Linked DNA regions of Homo sapiens: region 2 is linked to region 1. The links come from fine-mapping of genetic effects on gene expression. Tissue or cell type: whole blood. Region 1 holds a variant in brackets; the other region holds the start of a gene. All regions are shown on one strand. Distances are between the middles of the regions.

Evidence for each region. PIP is the estimated chance that this variant, and not a neighbour inherited with it, causes the effect.
Region 2: it holds the start of DUT, and the variant in region 1 is fine-mapped to the expression of DUT in whole blood (INTERVAL, PIP above 0.99).

What each region holds. Positions count from the first base shown.
Region 1 is chr15:48,382,849-48,385,608 of GRCh38, forward strand. No RefSeq gene overlaps it. Among named protein-coding and RNA genes, the nearest start is that of DUT-AS1, 52 kb to the left of the region's middle. The variant A/G (reference allele first, on the strand shown) is at 1,747.
Region 2 is chr15:48,329,936-48,332,695 of GRCh38, forward strand. It overlaps DUT (deoxyuridine triphosphatase), which reads left to right and starts at 1,494. Exons shown (of 7, transcript NM_001025248.2): 1 at 1,494-1,860; 2 at 2,333-2,471. The coding sequence starts at 1,581. It overlaps DUT-AS1 (DUT antisense RNA 1), which reads right to left and starts at 1,921. Exons shown (of 3, transcript NR_186809.1): 1 at 1,628-1,921. RefSeq lists enhancers at 1,002-1,528, 1,529-2,053, 1,977-2,271 and silencers at 1,717-1,926, 1,977-2,271.

The DNA of each region.
Region 1 (2,760 bases):
TTTCAAATGTAATGGAGGTAGTGGGAAGAATGAATATTTTTGTTTGATGGAATCAAAATACCAAATTTTTCATTGAACTGAAATGATTAAAACTAATTTTTATGAGAAAAACAAATATAAGTTGCTAAATCAAATCCAAAAACCAATTACTAAAGTGCAAAAAGGAGGTATGGGAGAATGTGTGAGTGGTAAATCTGACCCTGCATGAAAAAACACTTAGACATTGATTTGGAAAAGCGTTATACTGCAAAAGCAATCCCAAAATCTTGTGCACAATGCAATAACAGTTTATTTTTCACTCAAGCAAATTGTGCTGCATGTCTGGGCAGCGTGCTAGGGCTGCTGTCCTCCATGTGTTGGCTCAGCATTCCAGCTTGATTCAATCTATGACAACTCTGTATCAACACATGGGTTGACAATAGTCAGGATGGGCAAAGAGATGCCTGGAAAGATGAGAATAAGCACTTAAGTGCCTGAACCTGGAACTGACATGTGATACTCTACTCATTTCCTATTGGCCACAGCTGGTAACATGACTATTTAAAAAACTGTTTTTCTCTATTCTCACAACACTTCTAACACTAAATTTGTGGGGATTTTTCTCACACCAACCAATTTTTCCAATTTTCAACTAGGTGTCCTACAATTTAACTCATTTCTGACACTATCTGCCCAGAGTTGGTGCCGACCCCACAGGTTGAGGCCTCAGTCCTACAAGAATGCACCACTAAAGGATCCCGAGCACAGAAGTTTCTGTCTCCATGGAATTTGGGGTGCTCCATCTTCCCAGCATGTGGATGCATTCTTGTTCACCAACCTGGAAGCTCTTCAAACCCCTTTGCTTAATTTTTTTAGGAAGGCTTCATGATATAGGCATGATTGATTAAATCACTGGCCATTGATGATCAACTCAACCTCTAGCCCCTCGCCCCTCCCAGAAAGGCAGAGGGTGTGAAACCAAGTTCCAATCCTCTAATCACATGGTTGGTTCTTTTAGCAACCAGTTCCTATCCTGAAGCCATCCAGGAACCCCAGCCACCAGTCATCTCATTAGCATACAAAATACACTTATCATTTGGGAGATTCTAAGGATTTTAGGAACTGTATTCCAGGAAAGAAGGGCAGAGACAAAATATATATTTTGCATTCTGTCACAATGACCATAGCTATCTTCAAGAGGCAGGGGAGTGTACTACTTCCATGTGCTCAGAGAGTAGAGCAGAACTGGTGATTGGTGACCAAGGGCGTGGCCTAGTCAAAAATTCTAGTGGGAAGTAAATTAATTATGAGTTCAAAATACCACAGGCTTTAAGAAACAGATAAATAGGAAACAAAGTCAATAGAAGTAAAATCTCAGAATGAAGAAACTGATAATGGTGTTGGTTCCTCTCCCTGAACAGAATATACATTGAGTGCTGTGTTCATATGAGGGACTGAACTTCAAGAGGTCCTCCGGAGGTGTTCAGAGGGAAGTAACTAGATGCAGAATAGTTAAGAATTCTTATGGTTTAGACTAGAGAAATCTGAGGACAAAATAGCCATTCATTCTCGAATATATGAATATTTGACTTGCTTTAAGGAACTGTGTGTTGTAATTTACAAAGAGACAGACTCTTTAAGAAAGAGTATTTTGCAGTCACACTGCATTAGTTGCCTTGGGGAGCTCTCCTTCTCAAAGGGTGGGGCTCCAAGCATGGGATGAACGTCCTCTGGCACAAAGAGGAAAAGAGGGAATTCAGGCATCAT[A/G]TGGCTCATTGGATTAGATGATCCTTAAAGATGCTTTTACTCTCAAATTTGATAGCTTGGTGGGATAGGTGCCCACAATTCCCATTTGGGTGATTGCCCCAGGACCTCCAAAACTACTGGCACTTGCTTGGACTTCCTCTCAGATCCTGGGGCCATACATTGCTAGGATCTGGCTACACAAATTAGAAGCTGATGACTCATATCCCAAAGGTGAAAAGATAGGGTGTGGTTCTGAGTCCTGAGTTGCTGTATTTTATCCAGAATTGAATTCACAAGGCGGCTTCGAGTCATTCCAAAGCTAATGTGGAAACACACAAGAAGCCGCACACCCTATTGTCTTCCTGCAGTGAAGTTGGGTTGAACTCATGCAAACCAAAGTTGATTTAAACAACAACAACAAAAATCAAATTCTTGTCAGGCAAAGTCTTTTGACGTTGTTTTATTCTTGAGTGAATATTTACAGCTGAGTTGGAAACTCTATCAAATAGGAATTAGAACTTTGCCAACTCCTGATGTACATCTTAGCCAGGGTATGCAGGGTATGCACGCAGCCTCTTCAGAGCTGCTCTGCTTCACTGACCAGGGGTTGACTGAGTTCTTCACTCTGTAACCATTTCCTGACATCCTCTGCATGGACACTCTTGCACAGACATTTTTTTTTTTTTAATCTAGGAGTTGCACTTTCTTGGTTACTATGGCTGCAAATTGTTTATACTGGATTCATAGTCAGGTTTTTATTTCCTTTTGTAATTTTTCCCGTGAACTAATAAGCCACAGTGGAGTTAAAAGTGCGAGTAAATGTGAACTCTACACAAAGCATTTTTATGTTCTATTGCCATTCCCTTCCTACCCTTAATCATTTAGAGCTGTTAACATAAAAAAAAATAAAAGTGTTCAGCCTCCTCTCTACTCCCCTCCTTTGCCCTCTCATTTCCCAAGCATCAGAGGGGAAGAACCACCACCCATTTCCCATCAGGACTGTTTGCAGAGTAACACATGTCCTCAATTACTGGG
Region 2 (2,760 bases), 53 kb before region 1:
ACAAGTTATATTTCTATTGTCATAAAGAACGTTCTATTAAATGCTTACTGGCTCAGAATCCTATTACTTTTTGCCAGTTAGATTATGGCCGTTTCTCTTTTAGTCTAAAATAAACTCAGCTGAAAAGTAACAATAAACACTTTATGTATACAGATTAACAACAAAAAATAGAAGGTAACCTGCTTGGTGTTAGATATTGTAATAAGCCAAACAAGTAACTTTTGTGTAAACACTGAAGTAAGTGCTTTGAAGAATTCATAAAAGTTTATGACTCTAATTCATGTGAGAGATAAAATGCATATACATCAGAAGATTACACAATGAAAGTATATGGCTAACGACTAATGAATGATATAGTAAGTGTTAAAAGAGATAAGATGGGGCAGAGGTCACTACTGATTGTAAAAAGTTTCATGAATGAAGCGAGACTTTTATCTGGGTCTAGGAAAATGAAGTCGTTACAATCATTACATCTTAGTACAAGCAAGGAATCAAATAGTATGTCTCTCATGTGAACATTTTAAGTAAATAACTGGAGAAAGTACTTCAACAAAATAAGGGAGCAAAATAATGTTGGCTCAAAATGAGGTCGAAAAGTTGCAGGGCTCGGATCGTGTTGCTAAAGGCATAAATTTGGGAGTCCTCAAGCTGTAGCTAATAGTTAACGTCCAGAGAAGGTAGTGTATATTCCATAGCCTCATGCAAAGGAATTCCAACTACGAAGACGAACCAGTTAAGGAGACCGAAAAGGGGGGGCCTGTATGGAAAGGCATAGCAACGAATGTAAAATTTCCCCAATAATACTCTAAAACTGCCCCACAGCTTTTTTAATTTTGAAAATTCAAAACCATTCAATTCAGCTCGCAGATTTTTGTGAGAAATAAGGAGATACTTGCAGCTCAGAAAAAATTATTAACAACTATCTAGAAAGTTACTGCTTTATCCCCCACTGTAAACTATACTACCACGACCCGGGATCCTTGTTCGACTCCTAGCCAAGGGGTTCCCACTGCGTTTCTGTTGGGTTATCCCAAACCTGTGATAGGATAGTAGCGCCCTCCCTGCCTCCGGTCGAATAAACACTACAACGTCTGACACTCGGTGCTGAAAGGAAATCGGGCGCGGTGTCTTGCCCACAGCTTGGGGAGCGGCCCCGGGCGCAATAACTGTCACCGGCGCCGAGATGCGGTTCCGGCGCTTAGGGCGCCGCTAAACTCAGAGCCCGGGAGTCATGGCTGCGGGCGGTGCCGCCCCAGGTAAATCAGTCCAGGAGCAGGGCCCGGGCCTGGCGTACACTCTCGGAAAAATGGGGGCCAGAGCAAACAAGAAGAGCGAAAGCAAGAGGGCTAGGCAGCCAGAGGCGGCAGCAAGACTCAAGACGCCAACGGCGCCGTCTTCCTGGGGCCCCAGGGCCTGCGCCATCCCTGGGCTGCCGGGGCACCGCCTCTCCACGCCCCTCGTCCGGCGGCGGCTGCGACTGCTTCCGAGGTCATGTTCCCAGGACGGGCGCGTCTTCAGGGTGGAAGCCTGGCGCACGTCCGGAGGTGCCGAGGACCCAACCAGCCCAAACTCTGGGGGAAATGACTCCCCTCTGCCCTCGCCCCGCGCTCTGCTACCATTTCCTTACGTCTCTGCTTCGCTCAGCGATGCAAAACGCGCGAGGCGCACGGCAGAGGGCCGAAGCCGCGGTACTCTCCGGGCCAGGCCCGCCCCTCGGCCGCGCCGCGCAGCACGGGATTCCCCGGCCGCTGTCCAGCGCTGGCCGCCTGAGCCAAGGCTGCCGCGGAGCCAGTACAGTCGGGGCCGCTGGCTGGAAGGGCGAGCTTCCTAAGGCGGGGGGAAGCCCGGCGCCGGGGCCGGGTAGGAAAGGCGGGGGAGGGGCTCCGGCCGTCTGGAAGGAATCCACGCGGCTTGAGGCTGTGGGGGAAGTAGGGTGGCGAGCGGTCCTTCTGCGCGCGGGGGGCGGGGGGGGTGGGGTGGTCCATTAGGGTCCCCTGGCGAGGGGGCGGCTTTCTAGTGTGTGAGGGCGACGCCCTAGAAGCTCCCCTTCAAAGTTGGCCCCACGCGCTGAATGTGGAAAGTTGACTGGGACCCAGTAGTTTCCCATCCCAAACCTGCTTTCCGAGAAGGGCTTCAAACCCAAAATGTGAATCCCGCCTCCCCTCTCAGCCAGAACTGTGGACTCGTCCCGGGGAGGGGCGGTGGGTGGGGCGGGGCTGGCGGGAAATTTCGGTTTTGGCGCGCTCCCTGCGGCGACGCTCATCGTGCGCTCTCCTCTTCCCCCGGTGGTCTCCTCGCTCGCCTTCTGGCTCTGCCATGCCCTGCTCTGAAGAGACACCCGCCATTTCACCCAGTAAGCGGGCCCGGCCTGCGGAGGTGGGCGGCATGCAGCTCCGCTTTGCCCGGCTCTCCGAGCACGCCACGGCCCCCACCCGGGGCTCCGCGCGCGCCGCGGGCTACGACCTGTACAGGTGAGCGGGGACCTGCCGGCGAGGAGGCTGGGAAGGGCCGGCCGTCCGCTGCCACAGCTAGAAACAGTCACCGGAGAGATCACAGGAACACACTAGCTATAAATAGGATTTCTGCCTTTTTCGTGTTTAAAATTTTAGCTTTCATCTTTGGCATAAATTAAATAGAGATTTGGGCAAAGACTGCAGAATAAGTAAAATAGCTATACGGTGTCTAGCAAGGCGTTACTTTGCAACGTTTATTGTGCCCTTCCTAAATAGAAGATAGAGAGGAAGGCCCATGGTGGCTTTC